Regions from separate parts of the Homo sapiens genome. Here all the other regions are linked to region 1. The links come from fine-mapping of genetic effects on gene expression. A gene starts in region 1. Each other region holds a variant in brackets. All regions are shown on one strand. Distances are between the middles of the regions.

Evidence for each region. PIP is the estimated chance that this variant, and not a neighbour inherited with it, causes the effect.
Region 2: its variant is fine-mapped to the expression of SMAGP in whole blood (TOPMed, PIP above 0.99).
Region 3: its variant is fine-mapped to the expression of SMAGP in whole blood (TOPMed, PIP above 0.99).
Region 4: its variant is fine-mapped to the expression of SMAGP in whole blood (TOPMed, PIP above 0.99).

The regions. Positions count from the first base shown.
Region 1 is chr12:51,266,276-51,274,063 of GRCh38, forward strand. SMAGP (small cell adhesion glycoprotein) reads right to left here and starts at 4,140. Exons shown (of 4, transcript NM_001031628.2): 1 at 3,981-4,140; 2 at 2,970-3,041. The coding sequence starts at 3,003. RefSeq lists silencers at 3,409-4,078, 4,119-4,198 and an enhancer at 3,814-4,314.
Region 2 is chr12:51,310,217-51,315,216 of GRCh38, forward strand. BIN2 (bridging integrator 2) reads right to left here. Exons shown (of 13, transcript NM_016293.4): 2 at 3,607-3,687. Among named protein-coding and RNA genes, the nearest start is that of BIN2, 11 kb to the right of the region's middle. The variant C/T (reference allele first, on the strand shown) is at 3,091.
Region 3 is chr12:51,334,547-51,342,334 of GRCh38, forward strand. CELA1 (chymotrypsin like elastase 1) reads right to left here. Exons shown (of 8, transcript NM_001971.6): 5 at 6,698-6,834; 6 at 5,314-5,459. Among named protein-coding and RNA genes, the nearest start is that of CELA1, 8.2 kb to the right of the region's middle. The variant G/A (reference allele first, on the strand shown) is at 3,514.
Region 4 is chr12:51,319,270-51,324,269 of GRCh38, forward strand. It overlaps BIN2 (bridging integrator 2), which reads right to left and starts at 4,905. Exons shown (of 13, transcript NM_016293.4): 1 at 4,753-4,905. The coding sequence starts at 4,833. LOC105369767 (a long non-coding RNA gene) reads right to left here and starts at 4,739. Exons shown (of 2, transcript XR_944957.3): 1 at 4,459-4,739; 2 at 3,099-3,934. RefSeq lists enhancers at 1-125, 4,431-4,620 and silencers at 1,376-1,670, 4,651-5,000. The variant CAAAGGAGTG/C (reference allele first, on the strand shown) is at 3,023.

The DNA.
Region 1 (7,788 bases):
CATCCTGCCTGGAAAGTGAATCATCCTTTTGTGTCCATGCTATAAACGCTTAGTAGAGTACCACAGCGCTTGTGTTCAAGTAACCCTTATTTTACATGACAGTGGCCCCAAAGCACAAGAATAGTGATGCAATTTGGACATGCCAACAAGAAGTGCTTCCTTTAAGTGAAAAGGTGAAAGTTCTTGACTTAAGAAAAAAAAAAAAAGAACTGTGTACTGAGGTTTCTAAGATCTATAGTAAATAAGACATTTTAAGTGAGAGAGACCATTTTCACATAACTCTTATTACAGTATATTGTTATAGTTGTTCTATTTTATTATTATTGTTAATCTCTTACTGTGCCTAATTTACAAGTTAAGCTTTATCATAAGTATGTATGTACAGGAAAAAACACAGTATAGATGGGGTTCAGTACTATCTGAGATTTCAGGCATCCACTGGGGTTTTTGGAATGAATCCCCTGTGGATAAGCGGGGACTACTCTACCACTGAATTGTCTGCGAAAAAATGGCTAAAATGGTAATACCTGTACTATGTTTATTTTACCATAAATTTTAAAAAAGAAAAAATGGCATGAGCCTGTAATCCCAGCACTTTGGGAGGCCGAGAAGGGCAGATCACTTGAGGCCAGGAGTTTGAGACCAGCCTGGCCAACATGGCGAAACCCTGTCTCCACTAAAAGTATACAAATTAGCCAGGCGTGGTAGCGCACGCCTGTAATTCCAGCTACTAGGGAGACTAAGGTGGGAGAATTGCTTGAACCCAGGGGGCGGAGGTTGCAGTGAACCGAAATTAAGCCACTGTACTCCAGCCTGGGTGACACAGCAAGACTTGGTCTCAAAAATAATAATAATAAAATTTAAAAAATGTAAACAGCTCCCCCTTGCCAAGGTTCTAATCCCTCAGCTAGCTGCCAAGGTATCACCTTTTTTCCCTTGTGGGCAGGATTATTCTGGAGGTCCTCTGCCCACCCGCTTCCTGAACATCCTCCAGGGTAAATCGTCTCTGTAGCTTCACACATGGTATGAGGTATTCTACCTTTATCTAGAGCAGGTACACACGAAAAAGGTATTCTACGTTTCTCTAAGATACCTGCTGCGCCCCTTTGCCTGTATGAACCTTGTCCGTCTTTCAAGGGCAAGACTCAGATCCCCTTCCTCACCCACCCATGAAGCCTTTGCTGACCTATTCCCCCCCCCCACTCCGTGTCCCCCTAACTCTTTTTTTTTTTTTTTAAGACAGGGTCTTGCTCTGTCACCTAGGCCGGAGTGCAGTGGCATGATCTCGGCTCATTGCAACCTCCATCTCCTGGGCTCAAGGGATCCTCCCACCTAAGCCTTTGGAGTAGCTGGAACCACAGGTGTCTACCACCAAGCCCGGCTAATTTTTAAATTTTTTTGTAGAGATGGGGTTTCGCCATGTTGCCCAGGCTGATCTCGAACTCCTGAGCTCAGTCTGCCTGCCTCAACCTCCCAGAGTGCTGGAATTACAGGCGTGAGCCACCATACCTGGCCATTTCTCTCTTTTATCTCTTCTCACCAGACAACTAAAAGTCTGAATTGTGTGCATTACCAGTCACAGAGGACACTGTCTTAGACTTCCACTGGTGGTGTCACTCACCTGTTTCCACATCAGTAAAAGCAGAGAATGCCTGTCCTAATGACAAATGTGACTGTGTATAGGAAGACAAAGGTGTATAGACCAACCAAGGGTTTGTTCCTCTCTCTCCCTAACTAGCACATGCTGAAAACAGTCAATAAATAACTGATAGTTTGTCCGGCCCAGCCTGATGATGAACTAAAAGGTGGGCATCCATTCTCAGAGTGCTGAGCAGTAGTGCCCGGCCTCCGCACACCTTCAGGGAACAATGGGGTTTTGATGCTGGGTCTGTATCACCAGAGGAGTGGAATGAGAAAGCCAGCAAAATCACTTTCAAGGGAAAGATGGGTTTCTAACAAGTACTCAGTGCTAATAACCAACGTGACTGAGTGCTTACGAGATACTACACACTCTTCTAGGTGTTTTATATGGGTTGTCTCATTTAATCTTCATAAATCATAAGATAGGTACTATTTTCCCTATTTTGTGAATGATGAAACCGGAGCTTAGAGGTTAGCAATACTATCTTTAGCAGGTTTTTAAAAAATGATTTCCCTGTTATCTTTGAAGATTCCTTTTCCACATTTAATTACAAGGGTTTCTGCTACATTCTTTGCCATAGCTATAAATTATTAGACAGATGAATGTAAAGCCCTTCCTTTAGGCTTATACAATAATCTTCCTTCCTTCCTTCCTTCCTTCCTTTCCTTTCCTCCCTCCCTTCCTATTTTTTGAGACCGGTCTCACTTTGTTGCCCAGGCTGGAGTGCAATGGCACGATCTCGGCTCACCTGTGCTTCCCAGGTTCAAGCGATTCCCATGCCTCAGCCTCCTGAGTAGTTGGGATTACAGGCGTGCACCACCACGCCTGGCTAATTTTTTTGTATTTTTAGTAGAGATGGAGTTTCACCATGTTGGCCAGGCTGGTCTCAAACTCCTGACCTCAGATGATCCGCCCACCTCGACCTCCCAAACTGCTGGCATTACAAGCATGAGCCACCACGCCCGGCCTCTTTCTTTCTTTTGAATTAGCAATGGGGTCTCACTATGTTCCCCAGGCAGGTCTCAAACACCTAGCCTCAAGAGATCCTCCTGTCTCAGTCTCCCAAAGTCCTGGGATTACCGACATAAAATTATTTGATAAACCGAGGTTACAAAGATTTGTGAAGTCACCATGTCCATGTGACTTCAGATTAAAACCGTACTAAGGGGCACACTCTAGTTCCTGCTTCCTCCCAGGCCCTTCCTGTGTGAGGCAGGCAGAGAGAGGTGGGAGTCTTCCCACCTGGGCTGAGGCTTCCAGGACTGGTCTGGGGAAGGGGATGTTGAACAATTCTTTCTCACTGGGATTAGGAAAGGCCTTCACCTACCTCTTGGAGAAGGAGTAGTCAGGAGGCTGGTCATTGTCACTAGTGGTTGAGTTTCTTGGAGAAGAGGCAGATCTGTAGGAAGAGGGGCAAAGACAGGAATGTAGCGGGTGGGCCCCTATGGCTTTGAGTCCTGGAAGTCCCAGGAAAGCCTCTGGTGCCAGGTTCTCCCAAGTCCCTTCCCCTTTTTCTCTTGTCCTCTTCTGGTTTCCCTGAATATCTCCTCAGGCTCCAGGTACCAACAGCTCTCCACAGGAGCAGGTCTGAGGCCGCATGCAGTTTGACGGGGTGTTACCTTCATACGCTCTCTCCAGGTCCTTTCAATGGGCCACCAAATTTACTTAGATCTCTCAAGGCCTGAGAAAGTCAGGCAAAGGTTCGCAAATCAGCAGCGAACCCAGTTTCGCCAAAGCGCGGTAACAGGTACCCTAGGGTTCCACAGCTAGGAGTTCTGGTGACGCCATCCACCAGGTGTCAGGAGAGGGCCGGGAAGGTCAGGACCCGCGCCCAGGCTCCAGAGCGGAGTGGGCGCAGCGCAGTAGCCGGGCCGGGACCGGGAGGCGACGGCCGTGGGCCGCCTTCTGGCTCGCCTCGGACGCTGGGACGCCGGACTGGCCGCCCCCTCCGGGCCTGCTTTCGCCGTCCAGGGCGCGGTCCGCGCACAGCCTGCCAAGCCTCACTGGGCCCCAGCCCGCGCCCCGCGCCCCGGAGATCCTCGACGCCCCTGCGAACGCGGGGTGGACGCGACGGGCTGGGTTGGTCCTCGCCCCGCGGCCCCGCCCCCGTCCCCGCCCCCGCCCCGAGCCCCCCGCGTTACCAGCACCCCGCGGAGCGCGCTGCGCTGGGGGCGGCCGGTGCGTCGGGGAGCGGCGTTCCCAGCCGCCGCGACCCTCTGCCCCAGCGGAGCGCTGAGCTTCGGCCGCTCCGGGTTTCGGTTCCTGCCACGGCCGAGGTGGCTGCGGCGAATGTGGGCGACCCGGCTCTCCGGCGCCCCCGCCCTTCCCTCGTGCTCACCTTTCCAGTCGGACGGGCTGCTGGTGAAGGGCCGGCGCCGCTCCGCGCGTCCTTTTGAACTCAACGGGGGCGGGCACCGCGGAGTCGCGGAGGCCAGCAGAGGCCGAACGAGGACCCCGAGCGGAGGAAGCCGCGGGTGGCGCGCGGGGTTGGCGCAGAGGCCGGAGGGGGTGGGGGGCAGGCCGACGGGGTGGGACAGGAAAAGCGGAGAGAAACCGCCCTCTGCAGGTCCCCTTGGCTCCCCCGGGAGGAAAGGCAGCCTGCCCTTCTCCGATTGTCACTTTACTCTCCATCCGGAGCCGCTTCCTTTCTCGCCGCGAGGCTCGGGGTTGGGGGGGGACCAGATTGGAGCCGCGGGCTAACTGGGATCCGTCCCATTTCCCTGGGCTTGACGTTCTCTGAATTTTTAGCTAATGTGGAAAGTTACATTTATTTGCATTTGTTTATCGCTTGCTCACATAGGTCTGTGTCCTGAAGCTTGGCAGATGAGCGAACTTAGCCAGCACACCCCCGGCCGTGAAGCAGGGAGGTGAAGCGGGGAGAGCAACGAGCCCCACCCGGGTCTTGCCAGCTGGACGTTCTTGTGGGGCAGCGTTGAGCAGCGGTTAGGAGTGCCGTGGACTTTGGATTCAAACAGCCCCAGCTCTTCTGCTTGCTAGCTGGGTGACTTTGGGCAAATTAACATCTCGAAAATCTGTTTCCTCATTCCTAAAATGCGGGTCTGAAAGTGATCATGCCTGTAAAGCCATCTCATATCCATGGTTCTAGAAGCATGGTGAGCACCTCAATTTGAATAATCAGTGCCATGCTTTAGCTACCTCTTGACTCACTCGTTTGTGGCAGGAAATGTTCCCAAATTAATCAGAAGAATTCAGTGACTAAGAGGATGTAATAGTATATAGCGCAGGCACTGGAATCAGCTCTGCTGTGTGATCTTGGACAAGCTGCTTCTGTTCCGTTTCTCTTATCTGGGGCAATACCTGTCTGAATAGAGTGACTGTTGGGACGAAATAGGTTAGTAAATATGTACTGTAAGGCATTAGAACCTTGCCTGGCACATAGTAAGTGCTCAATAAACGCTAGGTCTTGTTACCTTGGCTTCCCGTTTAGGATTGGAACCCTTGTGATTATTCTTTCCCTCCCAGTGATAGACTTCTGTGCTTACTTCGCACTCCTAGGCGTTCTGTAGGTTTGTAAACCAGTATTTATACAGAAATACTTTCTGTAGAAAGACAGGCATCATCAGATTGTGCATGTTAATCCGGGAACAGACCGAAAGGGAAGGTCTCAGAGGAGAGAGGCATAAAGGGAGAAAACAAAACAAAGTCACAAGCAAAGCAAGAGTAGTTGCTTTTATTCCTAAAGTGTTCATTATAAAAGAAACCAGAGGGCAGGGCACTGTGGCTCCCAGCACTTTGGGAGGCGGGTGGATCACTTGAGGTCAGTAGTTTGAGACCAGTCTGGCCAACAAGGTGAAACCCTGTCTCTACTAAAAATACAAAATCCGCTGGGCGTGGTGGCACACACCTGTAATCCCTGCTACTCTGGAGGCTGAGGCACGAGAATTGCTTGAACCTGGGAGGCAGAGGTTGCAGTGAGGCGAGATCACACCATTGCACTCCAGCCTGGGCAACAACAGCAAAACTCCGTCTCAAAAGAAAAAAACAAACACAAATACAGGAGGAAAACAAACAATAAAAAAGTGATGAAATTCATTTTATATAAATATATTGTGAGAAATATATGTAAATATGTGCATGGGAAAATGCCAATCCAACCAAGAAAGGCAAAGAAAGTGATATGCCAGCTATGCATATGTAACTTAATAAAAGAAAGGTGAGCCTGGCTTGTCCTTAGATAAGAGAATATCCAAGAGAAAAGGAAATTAAAATCCTAGAGGGCTAAATCCAAAGGAGGACAATTGCTGGCATTGACATACTTCTAGCTGTCCACCTTGATCATGAATTCCAGGAGAAGTTCAGATCGTTCTTGGACCTGGGTCTGTCTCTTTCACATTTTCTATTATGTGTTGAAGATTGTTTAGAACTATAGACTCAGCCAGGCGCGGTGGCTCACACTTGTAATCCCAGCACTTTGGGAGGCCGAGGCGGGTGGATCACAAGGTCAGGAGTTCAAGACCAGCCTGGCCAACACAGTGAAACCCTGTCTCTACTAAAAATATAAAAATTAGCTGGACGTGGTGGCAGGCGCCTGTAATCCGAGCTAATGGGGAGGCTGAGGCAGGAGAATCGCTTGAACCCGGGAGGCGGAGGTTGCAGTGAGCCGAGATTGTGCCACTGCACTCCAGCCTGGGCGACAAAAAAAAAAGAAAAAAAGAACTACAGACTCAGAGGCTATCTGGCTCAACTGACTGACTCTACTGATTTGCTGTCACTTTCACAATTTCGACAGTTGTTAGTAATGTTCTTTCAATAAGCATCTTTTTTTTCTCTTTAAAATGTAACTGGTGGGGCGCAGTGGCTCACGCCTGTAATCTCAGCACTTTGGGAGGCCAAGGCAGGCAGATCACCTGAGGTCAGGAGTTCGAGATCAGCCTGGCCAACATGGCGAAACCACGTCTCTACTAAAAATACAAAAATTAGCTGAGTGTGGTGGCGGGAGCCTGTAATCCCAGCTACTTCGGAGTCTGAGGCAGGAGAACCTTTTTGCACCCTGGAGGTGGAGGTTGCAGTGAGCCGAGATTGCACCAACGCACTCCAGCCTGGGCAACAGAGTGAGACTCTGACTCAAAAAAAAAAAAAAACAAGTAACCTTACACCTATAATCCCAGCACTTTGGGAGGCCACAGTGGGCAGATCACTTAAGCCTAGGAGTTTGAGACCAGCCTGGGCAACATGTTGAAACACTGTCTCTACAAAATACAAAAAAAGTTAGACAGGAGTCGTGGCATGCACCTGTGGTCCCAGCTAGTCAGGAGGCTGAGGTGGGAGGATCACTTGAGCCCTGGGGGTGAAGGCTGCACTCCAGCCTGGGAGATATAGCAAGATCCTTTCCCCTCAACCAAAAAAAAGTAACCTTAGGGAGGGAGGTGGGGATGATTAATGGGTACAAAAAAAAAAAAAAAAAGAATAAGACCTTAAGACCTACTATTTGGTAGCACAACAGGGTGACTATAAATAATAACTTAATTGTACATTTAAAAATAACTAAAATAGTGTAATTGGATTGTTTTTAACACAAAAGATAAATGCTTAAGGGGATGGATACTCCATTCTCCATGATATGATTTTATTATGCATTGCATGCTTATATCAAAACATCTCATGAGGCCGGGCATGGTGGCTCACACCTGTAATCCCAGCACTTTGGCAGGCGGATCACAAAGTCAGGAGATCAAGACCATCCTGGCTAACATGGTGAAACCCCGTCTCTACTAAAAATACAAAAAATTAGGCAGGCGTGGTGGCAGGCACCTGTAGTCCCAGCTACTGGGGAGGCTGAGGCAGGAGAATGGCATGAACCCGGGAGGCAGAGCTTGCAGTGAGCTGAGACTGTGCCACTGCACTCCAGCCTGGGCAACAGAGCAAGACTCTGTCTCAAAAAAAAAAAAACAAAAAAACTCATGTACCCCATAAATATATATACCTCCTATGAACCCACAAAAATTAAACATTAAAAAAATAAAAATAGGCCAGGCACAGTGGCTCACGCCTGTAATCCCAGCACTTTGGGAGGCCGAGGCGGGCAGATCACAAGGTTGAGAGATCGAGACCATCCTGGCCAACATGGTGAAACCCCAACTCTAATAAAAATACAAAAATTAGTCGAGCATGGTGGCGCATGCCTG
Region 2 (5,000 bases), 43 kb after region 1:
TGGAAGACATAGGAACATATTAGACAATATCATGGGAATTCAATCAGCAAAATATACACTGTAGGAAATTGCAGGACAAACAACCTAGTATCATTAACAAATAAGCTACAAGAAGGGAGGGATTAGAATATAGATTAAGAGATATGACCTTAAATCTAATAAACTTAAACATGTCAGTGAGTTGCTGATTTAAACAAACCATAAAAAGCATGAAGACACAATCAGGGGAATTTGGACACTGACAGGATATTTTGTGATATTAAGAAATGATTCTGGTTTTTTTAAAAGATAGCACTAAAACTTACATTTTAGTGAAATATTTAATCTGAAATATCTGAAAAGATTTGTATGACACTGGTAAGTGAAAAAGGCAAGTTGCAAAATCATATGCATGGAAGAATCTCACTTTAGTAAATCTCACATTTATTTATTGTGGATATACTTAGATATCATACACATACATAGCAAAGTAATTGTAAAGATATAAAATAACATTGTTGTAGTTTAGGAAGATGTAAAATCATAATCGTTTTGTTTATATTGTTTTCTTTTCCTTTTTTTTGAGATAGGGTCTCACTTTGTCACCCAGACTGGAGTGCAGTGGCACAAACAAAGCTCACTGTAGCCTCGACCTGAGACTCAGTCAGTCCTCTTGCCTCAGCCTCTCAAGTAGCTGAGAATACAGGAGCACACCACCATGACCAGCTAATTTTTGTATTTTTTGTAGAGATGGGGTTTTGCCATGTTGCCCAGGCTGGTCGCAAACTTCTGAGCTCAGCACTTTGGGCTGCCAAAGTGCTGGGATTATAGGTGTGGGCCACCATGTTGGGCCTATTATTAATTTTTAAATTCATTTCTTTCTTTTTTCTTTATGTAGGGGCTTTTTTTTTTTTCTTTTGAGACAGGGTCTTGCTCTGTTGCTTAGGCTGGAGTGCAGTGGCACAATCACAGCTCACTGCTCAGTAGCTGGGACCACAGACGTGCACCACCATGCCCAGCTAATTTTTCTTATTTTTTGTAGAGTTAAGGTCTCCTGTGTTGCCGGGTTTGTCTCAAACTCCTAGTCTTAGCAACCCTCCCACCTCGGCCTCCCACTGGGAGGTGTGAGCCACTGTACCCAACCATGTACTTTCTGATTTGTTGTAATGAGTACATATTTTATTTATACTTTATTCATTTTTGAGACCAGGTCTTGCTCTGCTGCCTAGGCTGGCATGCACTGGTATGATCATAGCTCACTGCAGCCTGGAATTCCTGGGGTCAAGCAATCCTCCTACCTCAGCCTCCCAGGTAGCTGGGACTACAAGCATGTGCTACCACACCTGGCTAATTTTTGTATTTTTTTGTAGAGACGGGATCTTGCTATGTTGCCCAGGCTGGTCTTGAATTCCTAGGCTCAATTGATTCTCCTGCTTTGGCCTCTCAAAGTGCTAGTATTACAGCCATAAGCCACCATGCCTGGCCAAGTAAATGTTGTATAGAAAAATATTTTGAGGTGTGATAATGGTATTGTAGTTACATTTTAAAAGAGTTCTATTTTTAGAGATTGATAATGAATTTTTTTTTTCTTTTTGAGACAGAGTATCACTCTGTCACCCAGGCTGGAGTGCAGTGGTGCGATCTTGGCTCACTGCAACTTCCGCCTCCCAGGTTCAAGCAATTCTCCTGCTTCAGCCTCCCGAATAGCTGGGATTACAGGCATGTCCTATCACGCCCAGCTAATTTTTGTATTTTTAGTAGAGATGGGGTTTTACCATGTTGGCCAGGCTGGTCTCGAACTCCTGACCTCAGGTGATCTGCCCGCCTCGGCCTCCCAAAGTGCTGGGATTATAGGCGTGAGCCACTGCACCCGGCCTGATAATGAAATTTTTATAGATGTGTCAATGTTGTTGGAATCAAAATGGAGTCACTAGTGTTAAAAAAAAATCTCTGATAATAGAGCCAGGGAAGGCTATGAAAAGAGCATTCTCATGCTTATTTGCCTGATAAGAATTATCACAAAAGATCCTATGAAAACCACAACCTTGCACAAAGGCCATCACAACCTTATACAAAAAATATTTCTGCAAGGACTTCTGCCCAGCAACTGCCTGTTCAACCTTGGACTGGTGTCACCCTTATTATTGATCTTTGTAGCCAATGATAATTATTTTCAAAGAATCATGTAATCCTTCTCATTTTTTCCTTTGAAAACATGTGTCTTCCTTTACCTCCCTGAATACCTCATAGTTTACTATGGTACACATATTCCCATTGCAATGCTCTATTCCCGCATAAATATCTTTTTCTCTTAGACAGCCTCCCTCTGTTCGTTACTTAGGTTGCCGAATGAAATGATATATCTAGAATTTGTTTCATAATAATCAAGGATAGGAGAAAGTGAGTGGGGACACAGTGAAACATGATTGCCCATGAGTGGATAAATTATGGAAGCTGAGTGATGAGTACATGTGAATTCATTTTACAAGTTTATCTGCCTTTGTACATATTTGAAATATTCCATTAAAAAAAAGTTCATCAGATCTAAGATGGTAAACCAATAACAACAACAAAAAGTTCAAAAGTAAGATTCCCAGGCCCTACTCCCAGAGAACTTGCATTTAAAAATATTTCCCAAATGATTCTGATATACACTCAGCTACTGAATTAGATGATAGCTAATAACCCATTAATATAATTTTAAAAATTATTTTCTATATAATTCAACTGATATTTATATAGTAAAGAATTTGTGGGCCAGGTGCAGTGGCTCATGCCTGTAATCCCAGCACTTCGGGAGGCCAAGGTGGGTGGATCATCTGAGGTCAGGAGTTTGAGACCAGCCTGGCCAACATGGTGAAACCCTGTCTGTACTAAAAATAAAAAGAAAAAATTAGCATAGCATGGTGGCACACACCTGTAATCTCAGCTACTCGGGAGGCTGAGGCAGGAGAATTGCCTGAACCTGGAAGGTTGAGGTTGCAGTGAGAGGAAGGAAGGAAGGAAGGAAGGAAGGAAGGAAGGAAGGCAGGAAGGCAGGCAGGCAGGCAGGCAGGGAGGGAGGGAGGGAAGGAGGGAGGGAGATTTCTCTGTTCCCAAAATGACAGTCAG[C/T]AGCAAGAAAAAAGGTAAATTCCTTTATTTTTATTTTTACTTTTTTTTTGAGATGGAGTTTCACTCTTGTCACCCAGGCTAGAGTACAATGGCAAGATCTCTGTTCACTGCAACCTCTGCCTCCCAGGTTCAAGTGATTCTCCTGCCTCAGCCTGCCGAGTAGCTGGGATTACAGGTGCACACTACCATGCCCAGCTAATTTTTTTGTATTTTTAGTACAGACGGGGTTTCATCATGTTGGCCAGGATGGTCTCAAACTCCTGACCTCAGGTGATCCGCCCGCCTCGCCCTCCCAAAGTGTTGGGATTATAGGGGTGATCCACTGCGCCTGGCTGGTAAATTCCTTTAGTTCACCGAGGAAGGATAAGCAACAGGTCACCCTGTAGCCCTTAACCCTAGGGGGAGGGTGGCTTGGTGGAGATGTTTGCCAGTTTGCAGAACTTATTGTTCTTCTGCCACTCAGCCCTCGTGTCTCCTTTCTTCTTCCAAGCTTCCCTCCCCTACCCTCCAGATTACCTGTTGTTGGTAGAAGTTGCTAGCGCTTTGTTCAAATCGTTCATCTTTGGTTTCTACAGCTTTCCCCAATTTCTGCAGCACCTAGGGATATAAGTCAGAAAGGCCCGTAAGGTTATAGTCAAGTCTCTCTTACATGTTGGCCTCATATGACCCTGGCTTCAGTCAAGAATCTCACTTACAACTCAAGGGCTGTACTTATTTATTTATTTATTTATTTATTTATTTATTTATTTATTTATTTTTGAGACGGAGTCTCACTCTGTTGCCCAGGCTGGAGTGCAGTGGCACGATCTCGGCTCACTGCAACCTTCGCCTCCCAGGTTCAAGCAATTCTCCTGCCTCAGCCTCCTGAGTAGCTGGGATTACAGGCGTGTACCACCACGCCCAGCTAATTTTTGTATTTTTAGTAGAGACGGGGTTTCACCATGTTGGCCAGGCTGATCTCGAACTCCTGACCACAAATGATCCACCCGCCTTGGCCTCGCAAAGTGCTGGGATTACAGGCGTGAGCCAACATGCCTGGCCTTGAAGGGCTGTACTCTTACTGGACCAAAAGAATTAGGAATACAACAAACTGCTGAAAAAACAATCCTGTTCTGTAGTTCTTTTCAAATTAGGGGTAGCTCTAGGGGATACGTAGTAGTGAGCTAGAGGATATATATTAATATAAAGCTCAGAAGAAATAAGGTATATCTGGCTGGGTGTGGTGGCTCACACTTGTAATCCCAGCACTTTGGGAGGCCAAGGCAGGTGGATCACCTTAAGTCGGGAGTTCGAGGCCAGGCTGACCAGCATGGATAAACCCCATCTCTACTAAAAATACAAAATTAGCTGGGCATGGTGGTGCATGCCTGTAATCCCAGCTACTGGGGAGGCTGAGGCAGGAGAATCGCTTGAACCCAGCAGGCAGAGGTTGCAGTGAGGCAAGATCGCACCATTGTACTCCAGCCTGGACAACAAGAGCGAAACTCTGTCTCAAAAAAAAAAAAAGAAAGAAATAAGGTATATCTTTCTGAATGTCATTGTTATTATTGTCATTATTTTATTTGAGACAGGGTCTTGCTCTGTTGCCCTGGCTGTAGTACAGTGGTGCAATCACAACTTACTACAGCCTCAACCTCTCTGGGCTCAAGCAATCCTCCCACCTCAGCCTCCCCAGTAGCTGGGACCACATGCTCACACCACCACACCTCACTAATTTTTAAAAATTTTCTGTAGAGACAGGGTCTCACTATGTTGCTCAGGCTGGCTGAACTCCTGGGCTCAAGTGATCCTGTTGCCTCAGCCTCCCAGAGTTCTGCAATTATAGGCATGAGCCATTAGGCTGGCTGGCATTGTTATTATTATTATTATTTTTTTTTTTTTGAGACGGAGTCTCGCTCTGTCGCCCAGGC
Region 3 (7,788 bases), 68 kb after region 1:
CCTCAGCCTCCCGAGTAGCTGGGACTACAGGCACCCGCCACCACACCCGGCTAATTTTTTTGTATTTTTAGTAGAGACGGGGTTTCACCGTGTTAGCCAGGATGGTCTCGATCTCCTGACCTCGTGATCCGCCTGCCTTGGCCTCCCAAAGTGCTGGGATTACAGGCATGAGCCACTGCGCCTGGCCTAATCCTTTCATTTTTTATAGTTTCAGCCAGCCTGCCAGCTTCTCTCTCTCCTCCATCTAGTTTGGACCTTGCAGTTGATCTGCAATCCTGTCCTTTTACCCCAATCATGCAGGAAACCGTCTTTGAGTAAAACAGAGTGAATCATATATCCATGTGGTCGTAGTCTGGTCTCCAAACAGCCAGTCAGCAACATCTTGGAGGACTGTCCTCCCATTCACACTAACTAGTCCAGACCCATACAACCCTTTCCCCTTCATTTTCAGCAGTCAAGTTGACTCCTCCTAGTTCATGAGTAACTAGAAGCAATAATGTAGAACACCTGCCAACGTTCGGCTACCAAATCCAGCAAACTTTTCTATGTCTGTGTGCACATCTGGTATCCCTCTTCCTGTTCAGAGCCAGCTCCACCTGTGCTCTTAGTTCCATCTCTTTCTTCTGTGGGATCTTGTGCCATCCATTATTATTATTACCTCTGTCTGACTCTACAGGATTCTTTCCTCTCTGCCTATTTATGCACTCAATTTTCTTTTCTCTTTTTTTGAGACGGAGTCTCACTCTGTCACCCAGGCTGGAGTGCGGTGGTGCGATCTTGGCTCACTGCAACCTCTGCCTCCTAGGTTCGAGCAATTCTCCTGCCTCAGCCTCCTGAGTAGCTAGGATTACAGGCACGCGCCACCATGCCTGGCTACTTTTTTGTATTTTTAGTAGATGGTGTTTCACCATGCTGGCCAGGCTGGTCTCGAACTCCTGACCTTGTGATCTGCCCGCCATAGCCTCCCAAAGCACTGATATTACAGGCGGGAGCCACCGCGCCCGGCCAATTTTCTTCTCTTAGAAGATCCACTCCCTCCATGACTTGCTGTCCTTAAAGCTACCAGACTTTTTTTGTTCTTCCTTTTTTTTTTTTTTTGTCCTCTTTTGAGACAGGGTCTCACTCTGTTGCCCAGGCCGGAGTGCCGTGGTGCGATCATAGCTCACTGCAGCCTCGAACTCCTTGGCTCAAGTGATCTTCCCACCTCAGCCTTCCAAGTAGCTGGGGTTACAGGTGCACGCCACCACATCCAGCTAATTTTTAAAATTTTCATAGAGATGAAGTCTCCCTACATTTCCCAGGCTGGTCTCTAACTCCTGGGCTCAAGCGATCCTCCTGCCTCAATCTGCCAAAATCTTGGGATTACAGGCATGAGCTACTACACCCGGCTGGTTATATGTCTTATTGCCTCTTTATTTCTTACCCTTCGGACAAGCTTCTGCCCTCACCACTCCACTGAAACTGCTCTTGCCAAGGTTACAATTGCCAAAGTGGCCACTTTCAGCTCTTACCTACTGTGGCTTCTGGGTGAATTGTATATTATGTGATATCTGTAAGTACTTCCTGAGATTTCATAATATCCTTATTACCAGGTTTTTATCTTACATCTACTTCTCCTTTCTTAGATCCTAGTGGTTTCTTTATCCTCCACTTATCCCTGAAACACTCAAGTATTTATGTTCTGACAGTTCTTTCCCAACCCACTGCTCTTTTCTCATTGAACAGTTTTTCCCTGGAATGGGATCTGATTTGTTCTCAGTAGGTATCTCTAGCCCAGCTCTTCCCCCAGGCCCCACTTTTTCTATCTAATTTCTTGGCCAGGCGTGGTGGCTCATGCCTGTAATCCCAGCACTTTGGGAGGCTGAGGTCAGGAGTTCGAGACTTAGCCTGGCCAACATGGGGAAACCCCGTCTCTACTAAAAATACAAAAATTAGCCAGGTGTTGTGGCACATGCCTGTAATCCCGGCTACTTAGGAACCTGAGGTAGTAGAATCACTTGAGCCCGTGAGACAGAGGGGGCAGTGAGCTGAGATCGCGCTACTGCACTCCAGCCTGGGTGAGAGAGGGAGACTCCGTCTCAAACAAAACAAAAAAAACACCAAATTTCTTACTGGTTGCTATACCTGAATGTCCCACTGGGATCTCAGACAAAGGTTGTCCAGAACCAAACTCATCATCTTCTCTCTCAAACTCTGTAAATCTTGTCTCAGGGCAACAGTGCCCTCCCCCAAATCACTTAAACCAGATGCTTGGCTGTTGTTCCAGATCCTCCTCCTTCCCTCCTCCGGTTCCTATCACCACTGCCTTAATTCAGGCCCTCAAATTTCTTGCTTAGATCATTGCAATAGCCCTCTAGGCAATCTCCCTGCCTCTCTTGTCTTCTTCAAAAACATGCCTAAAGAACAATTCTAAAAGGTGAATCTGGTTGTGCTAGTCTCCTGTTTAGAAGTCTTTGATGGCTTCCCAATGCCCAAGAGATAAGGTTCATGTCCCCAAGCCTGGCATTTGAAGCCCTGAGTTGTACAGCTCTTGCTTGCCTCTCTAGTCTTACCTCCTGACATTTCCTAGTATGGTGGTAGCTTCTATTCTAGCCCACGGGTCAGCAAACCTCTTCTGTTAAGGGCCAAACAGTACATATTTCAGGCTTTGCAGGCCATACCGTCTTGATTGCAACTACTTTGTGTTGTACTACAAAAGCAGCCATAGGCTGGGCATGGTGCCTCACGCCTATAATCCCAGCACTCCAGGAGGCCAAGGCAGGAGGATTGCTTGAGGCCAGGAGTTCAAGACCAGCCTGGGCATCATAGTGAAACCTTGTCACTACCAAAAACAAAACAAAATTAGCTGGGTGTGATGGCATGTGCCTGTGATCCTAGCTACTTGGGAGGCTGAGGTGGGAGGATCATTTGAGCCCAGGAAGTTGAGGCTGCAGTGAGCCAAGATGGCACCACTGCACTCCAGCCTGAGTGACAGAGCAAGACCTTATCTCTTCAAAAAAAAAAAAAAAAAAAAAAAGCAGCCATAAACAGTTTGTAAATGAGCAACTGTGACTGTGTTCCAGTGAAATGTTATTTATGGGCACTGAAATTTTATATATTCTTCATGTGTCATGACATATTATTATTCTGATTTTTTTTCCTTACCATTAATAAATGTAATAATTCCAGCCTGGGCAACATGGTGAAACCCTGTCTCTACAAAAAATACAAAAAATTAGCTGGGTATGGTGGTATGTGCCTGTAGTCCCAGCTACTAGGGAGGCTGAGGTGGGAAAATCACTTGAGCCTGGGAGGCAGAGGTTACAAGTGAACCATGATGGTACAACTGAACTCCAGCCTGGGCAACAGAGTGAGACGCTGTCTCAAAAAAAAAACAAATATATATATATATGTATATGGCCAGGCGCGGTGGCTCATGCCTGTAATCCCAGCACTTTGGGAGGCAGAGGCAGGTGGATCACGAGGTCAGGAGTCCGAGACCAGCCAGTTCGAGACCAGCCTTGCAAACATGGT[G/A]AAATCCTGTCTCTACTAAAAATACAAAAATTAGCAGATGTGGTGGTGCGTGCCTGTAATCCCAGCTACTCGGGAGGCTGAGGCAGAAGAATTGCTTGAACCCGGGAGGCAGAGGTTTCAGTGAGCTGAGATTGCGCCACTGCACTCCAGTCTGGGCGACAGAGTGAGACTCCATCTCAGGAAAAAAAAAAAACATACACACACACACACACACACACACACACACACATACACATACGCATACATATATATATATATATATAGAAATCAAAATGTAATAACTGTTCTAAGCTCATGGGCCATATAAAACAAGCAGTGAGCTAGATTCGGCTTGTGGACCTCCAGCCGCTGCTCTACTCTAGCCTTAGGGAATGCCCCATAATTCTGTATGTACTCTAGGTTGTTTCTTGGCCCCCTGCCTTTATTCATGCCGTTCCCTCCCTCTGAATGTCTTTTCTCCTTTTTGCCTGGCCTATTCCTATTTGCCCCTCAGGACCCACTACAAATTCTAGTTTCTTGGGGAAGGAAAGTCTTTTCTGGCCCCAGTAGGTAGAGGTAGGTACCTACCCTTGGGCTTCCATATCACCTGTGCACATCCTGATTATTAACACTTAACCACATTGTATTACAATGTTCTATTGTATGTCTGTGCCTCTGGTTTCTTTACTTGACACTGTTTGATCCATCTTTGTAACCTTAGCACTTAGCACAATGCCTGGCATATAGTAGATATATAATGAATAGTTGTTAAACTGCATTAAGAAATCTGGGGTGGGGCATGGTGGCTCACGCCTGTATTCCCAGCACTTTGGGAGGCCAATGTGGGAGGATCACTTGAGCCCTGGAGTCTGAGACCAGCCTGGGCCACAAAGCAAGACCCCATCTCTATATTAAAATAATAATAATAAAAAAAGCTTAAAAAGAGAAATCTGTAAGATAGTTTATGGCTGATTGATCTTGTCAAAATAGAGGAAGGTTATATTTGTTATATATAAGCTATTATAAAATTATTTTGTGCACTTTCCCCTATCAAACTCACCTGTACATACTGCCAGAAATATCACTGGGGTAAAGGGATGGTGGTAGAGGAACTGCAAGAGAAGTAGGACTGATAGGTAAGAGGGAGCAGGGTACTGCTTATACAGCATCACAACCACCTGTCCAGGCTCAGCTGCATCGCTGCCATTAAAAAATCTAGGTAACAAATTTGGCTGGGCATGGTGGCTCACGCCTGTAGTCCCAGCACTTTGGGAGGCCAAGGCGGGTGGATCACCTGAGGTCGGGAGTTCGAGATCAGCCTGAGCAACATGGAGAAACCCTGTCTCTACTAAAAATACAAAAAATTAGCCGGGCGTGGTGGTGCATGCCTGTAATCCCAGCTACTTGGGAGGCTGAGGCAGGAGAATTGCTTGAACCCAGAGGCGGAGGTTGCAGTGAGCCGAGATCGTCCCATTGCACTCCAGTCTGGGCAACAAGAGCAAAACTCCATCTCAAAAAAAAAATCTAGGTAACAAATTCTAAGAACACACACATATACCAACAACAACATATAAATGTTGGGCCACGTACAAACTTTGAAGTGAGGGCATCGAGCAAGATCAATTTTAAGGTTCCTTTCAACTTTGAGTTTCTGCATGTGTAGAATTACCAGCACAGGATCATTCTCACTTAGACGCCAGAGTAGAAAATTGAGTCTGTGTAGGACTAAGAGTAAGTGTCGAATAGGGAGGTGAGGAAGAGGGGTGGAGGGATAGGCAGAGAGTGGCGGGACCTGGGGTGGGACCCCCTGCAAATGTTCACCTGGCATCCAGAGCGAACTCCATCTCCACCAGCACACACCATGGTGTTCTTCACAGTGGAGCCCCAGTAGGAGGAGCTGGAGCAGATGGCGTAGTCCACAGAGGGCAGGTAAGCCTGCTGCAGGGTCTGGGCCAGCTGCCCATTGGCTGAACAGGACACACGGCATTGGCAGTCAGCTCCAGATGTGGTCCAGCAGAAAAACCTTCCACCCCTGCCACACCTTCCCAAACTCTCGTGAAAGCTGAGCTCAGGGCAAACTCCTTCTCTCTCCCTGTTGCATGTGGTGGATCCTCTGTCTTCTCTCTTTATATGGCCGCACAGGACCCTTCCCTCAGGGAGGCAGCCTTGCTTACTGTACCTAGGCTCCAAGCCACCAACCCTACTCCTGCTTCTTTTCACTCGTGGATAACTTAGTTGCACCATGGAATGGCCTTATTTGTGGATGATTTATCTGTCTGTTCTGTTTGCTCCTGCAAGCTCCATGGAGCAGAAATGGGATTGTGCATGCTTGTTTCCATTTCTTTCTTTCTTTTTTTTTTTTTTTTTTGAGATGGAGTTTCACTCTTGTTGCCCAGGCTGGAGTGCAATGGAGCAATCTCGGCTCACCACAACCTCCGCCTCCCAGGTTCAAGAGATTCTCCTGCCTCAGCCTGCCGAGTAGCTGGGATTAAAGGCATGCACCACCATGCCTGGCTAATTTTGTATTTTTAGTAGAGATGGGGTTTCTCCATGTTGGTCAGGCTTAAGCGATCCTCCTTCCTCAGCCTCCTGAGTACCTGGGACTACAGACTCATGCCACCACACTCAGCTAAGGATCCTTAATTTCTCTGGACCTTGGTTTCCTCATGTATAAAATGAAGGGCTGGCTGGCTGCAGTGGCACATGCCTGTAATCCCAGCACTTTGGGAGGCCAAGGTGGGAGGATTTCTTAAGCTCAGGAGTTCGAGGCCAGCCTAGGCAATATAGCGAGATCCCATCTCTACAAAAAAATTTAAAAATTAGCTGAGTGTGGTGGTACATGCCTATAGTCTCAGCTACTCAGGAGGCTGAGGTGGGAGGATCACTTGAGCCCAGGAAGTGGAGGTTGCAGCCTGGGTGACAGAGCAAAACCCTGTCTCTAAATAAATAAATAAATTTTAAAAATGAGGGGCTGGTAAAAAAAATTCTCTGATAAAGTCTTTTTTTGTTCTAAGAGTCCATGAATCTGTCAACTACTTCACAGCCCATTCTTAGCTTGATATAATGCATCAGTTATTGTATCTATGGTTCTTTTAGCTCCTGGTCTCTGGCCATAAGCACCTAGGACCACAGAAAAAGGTGTCTTAGAAGCTCAGCTACCTAATCAAGATCCCCGTGGTGGATTGTGCCAATGTAGGCAACTTACTCTTGGTCTTGCCCCAGCCTGTGATGTAGCAGGGACTGTTGTTAGCCAGGATGGCTCCCTCCTGGGGCAGAACACCCAGCTGGACATAGCTATTGAGGGTAACGCTCTGGGCCAGGCGCAGCAGGGCGATGTCATAGCTGCAGGAGAAAAGGAGACTGCTCACTCATGGGATCAGCTCTTCCCTGAGGTCAGCATATACACTGGCCCTCTCTAAGCATTTGTATCCCCGTGGAATTGGAAAGTGACGACTTTGAAGAAGGACGGGGCTCACTTGCTAAGCCTCAAACTAGAGCAATTACAATTTAACATGTAAACATTCTATGTTTAACAGCAGCATCTGCTGGTGGGACATTGGTATTGCAGCCTAGCTCTGACCTTTGCAACCCCGGGAAGTAGAGAATGGGGGAATCTGAAAGGAGCAGAGTGGCATGATCTTGGTGGCAGAGTTCTCAAACAAGAAAAATGTAAAAGGCTGAGTGGCTCTACAAGCTCAGTAGAATATCCCAATTCCTTGAACCCACCCCCACCTGCACATGCTATAGAATTGACCACCGTTTTAATTATTTATTTTCCAGAAGTTTACAACTCAACTTGCAATTTTCCCGTGTAAGATTCACTTTAGGAAATTTACTTTTGCTGATGGAGTCTATTCTATAATGTGAATAATAAATAATGATAAAACCCCCCATAGAAACAGAACATTAAAATCTGCAGAGAATGGTAATCCACTGTGCAAACCAGCCTGGATCCAACAAATCCTAAAGGTCTTCAAAGACTCTCAAGCCCTCCAGAACGTCAGTTCTCTTTTTCTTATGAGACAGAGTCTCACTCTGTCACCCAGGCTGGAGTGCAGTGGCGCGATCTCAGCTCACTGCACCCTCTTCCTCCTGGGTTCAAGTGATTCTCCTGTAATCAAGCGATTACAGGCACATGCCACCATGCCTGGCTAATTTTTTTTTTTTTGTATTTTTAGTACAGACAGGGTTTCACCATATTGGTCAGGCTGGTCTCAAACTCCTGACCTCAGGTGATCCGCCTGCCTTGGCTTCCCAAAGTGTTGGGATTATAGGCATGAGCCACTGTGCCTGGCT
Region 4 (5,000 bases), 52 kb after region 1:
GGGTTGGGGGGTACTGAGAGAAACTTCCTCACCCTCCAACTCTGAAAGTGAAAAGGTGTTACCACCCTGAAACATACCCCAGTACTCTGGAGCCAAAGTAATTTGTTGCCATAAGCAACAGGTACATGTTAGGGCACTTATACTGTGTCATGGGTGTTCTTCCCAACGAAAGACCCTTGAGGGAACAGGGTGTACAGATGCTAAACAGATGTTTGTTGAAACAATGAATAAATTCTACTTTTGGATCACTTCCTAATGAAAACCCATATAATGCTAATCCCTAAAATCCTGCTTTGAGAATTCTGTCCCAATTTATCTGGCCTGGCAGCTAAATTAGAATATAGATATTTAAGGAGAAAGAGCAAGAGCAAGGCAAAAAAGTAAATGTGGCAAAACGTTAACACTTGGTGAATCTGCATGAAAAATATTCCAGTGTTCATTGATTATTTATAACTTTTCTGTAGATCAGGGTTGGGGTGGAAATAGAGCTTTAAAAAAAATTACTACATATATCTTTGGTGGCTATAGTTCCCTACCATTGCCTCTCCCATAATCATTTATTATATTTTAGTTAATTCCCTCAATTGGGGTAATTTGCATAGGGCCTGGATATTTGATATTATAAAATTTTGCTAAAATTTTTTCTTAGGTGCAGTAAATTTTTGTGGTTATGTAGGAAATCTTTCTCTTTCCTTCCTTCCTTCCTTTTCTCCCTCTCTTTCTTTCTTACTTTCGAGACAGAGTCTAGCTCTATTGCCCAGGCTGGAGTGCAGTGGCACAATCTCAGCTCACTGCAACCTCCACCTCCCAGATTCAAGCGATTCTCCTGCCTCAGCCTCCAAGCAGCCAGGACTACAGGTGTGCACCACTAGGCTAATTTTTGTATTTTTTGGTAGAGATGGGATTTCGCCACATTGGCCAGCCTGGTCTCGAACTCCTGGGATTTCGCCACATTGGCCAGCCTGGTCTCGAACTCCTGACCTCAGGTGATCTACCCACCTCGCCCTCCCAAAGTGTTGGGATTACAGGCATGAGCCATGGCGCTTGGCCGGAAATCTTTATTTTTAGGATATATGATAAAGTAAGCTTTCCTTAAAAGGTCCTAATATACTTTTTCCAGCCTTTGCTCTGACCACTCCCTGTGCTCCAGCTGAGCTGTAGTTCTCACTCCAGTCTCCATGCCTTGCTTATGCTGGCACTTCTCAGCTAGAATGCTCTCTGATCACGTGTCTGAAAAACTACTAATCTCCCATAATTCCTATTTCAAATTCAGCCTCCACTATAAAACCTCTCGATTCTCCCCAATCCTTTTGTCCTCTGAATAGACCTGCATCTCTCAGGTCAGTTATTTTATTATCATTATTCTTTTTTTTTTTTTTTTTTAACTAGATCTTAAGCTTTTGGCAAAGCAAGAATGTCTCTTACCCCTAAATTCCCTGCTGGGTCCAGCCCAGTACCCTGAACAAAGGAGTTTTTCTGTAAATATTTGTGGAATTTAACCCTCTGGGATTTAAGCTGAGTAGATGTCAACAGAGGAGAAGACCAACAAAGGAGTGGTAAACAACGCCCCTTCTCAGGGGGATCTGAGAGGTTTGCCACAGAGAAATCACAAACAGATGGTGAAAGCAGTACTATAGTTGGAAATGAGAAGATGTATCATACTAAAAACACACACACACACACAAACACACACACACACACTCTAAAGCCAGCTTAAATTCAGTCCCATGTTGAGTTTGGGCGGGAAATGGAAAACAGACCAAGAATGTTTCATCCCTATTGTGTTTAATGGTCACCAGACCTCCACTCCCAGCTTTTCAGAGGATGCCTGAACAAAAAGTGTTTCTACTTCTGAGCTCTGTTCCTGAGAGAGGATCAGCAGGAAGTGGGGGAGGCACAGATGTGAGAGTGGCTTATCAGGAACGTTGTAAAGCAGCAGCCTGAGTGAGGTTAGGATTCAGAGGCAGGACACCTGGGTTTCAGTAATATTTCTGCTACCTACCAATCTCTTTTGAGCCTTGTTTCCTTATTTCTAAAACAGAGATGCTAATAACCTGCTTAAAGTGTTGAATAGATGAAGGGAGATGACATCGGTAGAATGTTGGCTCCATAAAGGGAGAGAGAATCACTTTGTCTTTTTTTTTTTTGAGACAGAGTTTTGCTCTTGTTGCACAAGTTGGAGTGCAATGGCGCGATCTCGGCTCACGGCAACCTCCGCCTCCCAGGTTCAAGCGATTCTCCTGCCTCAGCCTCCTGAGTAGCTGGGATTACAGGCATGCGCCACCACACCCGGCTGATTTTGTATTTTTAGTAGAGACGGGGTTTCTCCATGTTGGTCAGGCTGGTCTCGAACTCCCGACCTCAGGAGATCCACCTGCCTGGGCCTCCCAAAGTGCTGGGATTACAGGCGTGAGCCACTGCACCCCGCTGATAATCACTTTCTTATATCCCTGTCTCTGGTCCATAATAGGCGCTTGATATTTGACACATTTCACTATTTGACACATTAGCTATTACTTATTACTCAGAAGATTACATCCAACTGCTTGCAGAAAAAGCAAAAAGTGTTGCAAGGAATTCTTTCATTTTAGTGCAAATTTCTCCCTCTTTATCTTGGTCTCAATAACTTCCCAAGACTCAAGGACTGGCTTCAGGCTGACGGAGCTGAGCTCCCTTCCGGCATCCCAGGCCATTCCCACCTTATCGAAGTTCAACCTTTGCCTACCCTTTTGTCTAGTCTAGGTTCAGAATATCTTGTTTTCTTCATCAGCTGGGAATTCCTCATGGCAGATTTGAGTTTGCTCCTCTTTCTCTACTTCCTCAGGGTTCAGGCCAGAAGAACCTGAGAGACTGGTTCTGTCTTTGGGAAGTATTTGACTCTGAGTCTAATGTGACAGCTTTTCAATTTAGTGTTCTTACCATATTGAGTTTCATCAAGAACATCAACCCTCTCATTTTACAGGTGCAAGATCTGAAGCCCAGAGCAGGACATTATTTAGCCAAGGTTTGGAGTCTATGCTTA[CAAAGGAGTG/C]AAAGCCCAAAGCAAGGTTTTAGTGTTGACGAGAGGCTAGATGAAGACAGAAGATGCAAGAGTGAAATACAATCAATTGTATGTCTTTTATTTTTATGTATTTATTTTTATTTTTTGAGACAGAGTCTCCCTCTGCTTGAGTGTGGTGTGGTGTGATCACTGCTCACTGCAGTCTTGATCTCCTGGGCTCAAGCAGTCCTCCCACCTTGGCCTCCCAAAGTGCTGGGATTACAGGAGTGAGCCACTGTGCCTGGCTGGTATGTCTTTTTAAAATTACTATCATTCATGAGTGTTTTGTCTTTTAGGGTTTTTTTTTTTTTCAACCACAGTGTGGCCTTCTCTCCAGTACCTCCTGCTCGCCCACACTGTTTCGAGCTAGACCTTCCCATAGGCCCTGCTCTCGGGTCTACCAGATTTGTAAGTCTTCAGAGAGGCTGAAACTAGGATCAAGGTGAAGTTAGGGTAAGTGAAGTAACGAAGTCTGGCTACACGAACTCTTTCCCTTTTCCTCCTCTCTTTCACATGACCTCAAATGATAGAAAATAACCTCCCTTCCATTGTGGTCTCTTAAAGTCAGGAGCTACATCTACATTCCATCAGTTTTCTGCTGATAAATCAACTCGGGAGAGCTGGTTGCCTTTAAGCCTTCCCAGGGCTCAAAGCAGTGCTCCACTTTTAGAAGATAATAGGGATATTTCAGTTGGTAAGCAGAGCTGTTCATCCAAATGCTTCTAAGTCCATCAGCTCTTAGAAAACCAAAACTTCTCCGTTGTAGAAGGCAGGTTGGGCTTAATAAAGAGAGAGAGAAAAAAAGGAAAACCGAAACTCTATCTCAGGTCCTTCTTGTCTTTCTTCCCTCGCTCTTTCTTCTGGCTGACATGTCTTCCCAAACCGCCTTGTCTACTAGAGGGTTGGTAGGTGGAGAGCAGAGGCTCAGGTTAGAAGCAAAGAAAATATTCTGTACAGGTAGAAACAAAAATGCCATCAAAATGTGTAGAGAATGTCCCCACAATTTAGATTGCCAAGCAAGTAATAGATGGGCAGCCCACCTAAGTGCCAGTGCTGGAGCAGGGCTACCTGACACTAACCAAGGACACACTCTGAACACAGATGTGGTTCATCACCCTGGGAGGTGTACTCCCCAACGCCAAAGGGAGGGTAGAAGAAGCAGATTTGGGCTCCTGCTTACGTCAGCTGAAACACCACCCAGAGGCCAGGCAGGGTCAGGTAGGGGGAGAACTATGCAGGATTATTCTAAGCCTTTGGTGGGGGGTGCCTGCTGGCATCCGCTGCATCGCTGTTTTTGGGGAAATTGCCCTCTATGGAAAATTACCCTCCAATTTCATCATCTGTAAAATACCAATTTTGGATTGCTAGCACAAAATTTGATACAAAGGTGGCCACCACCATCACTTCCTTTCTTTCACCTTTTCTGGGTCAGCCTGAGGGTTGTCGAAGGTTCTGCCCAGAGACTGTTGTCTCCCCAGCTTCCCTTATCCTTGCCCAAGATCGGGTGGCGGTCTCCGACCTCTCTCCAATCTGCCAGTTTTCATGGAAGCCCACTCCTCGCTCCCGTTTCCCTGGGAGAGCGGGAGACCCTTCTCGTCAGCCCAGACCCTTCGGGGCCCCTGAGCACCCTGCCCGCCCCTCCTGCCCGGCCGGGCTCGGCCTCGGCCTCGGCTCCCTGTGGGCCAGACAGACAGCGAGGCCCGGCCACCTACCTTCTCCTGGGCCCTGCTAAACTTCTTCTGCACCTGCTTGGCGAAGAGGCCGGCCGCGCCGCCTGCCTTGCCCTCTGCCATCCTGCCAACTCCCTGGGGGCCGCCGCCCTGGCCCCGCGCCCTGTGGTTTTCTGAGGCCCCCGAGGAGGAAGTGCGGGCTCCCGGCATGCCTCGCATCCGGCCCCAGCCCTGAGCCACCTCAGGCCGCCCCTGGCCAGCCCTGAGGCCCGCCCCTCAGCCCACCACTG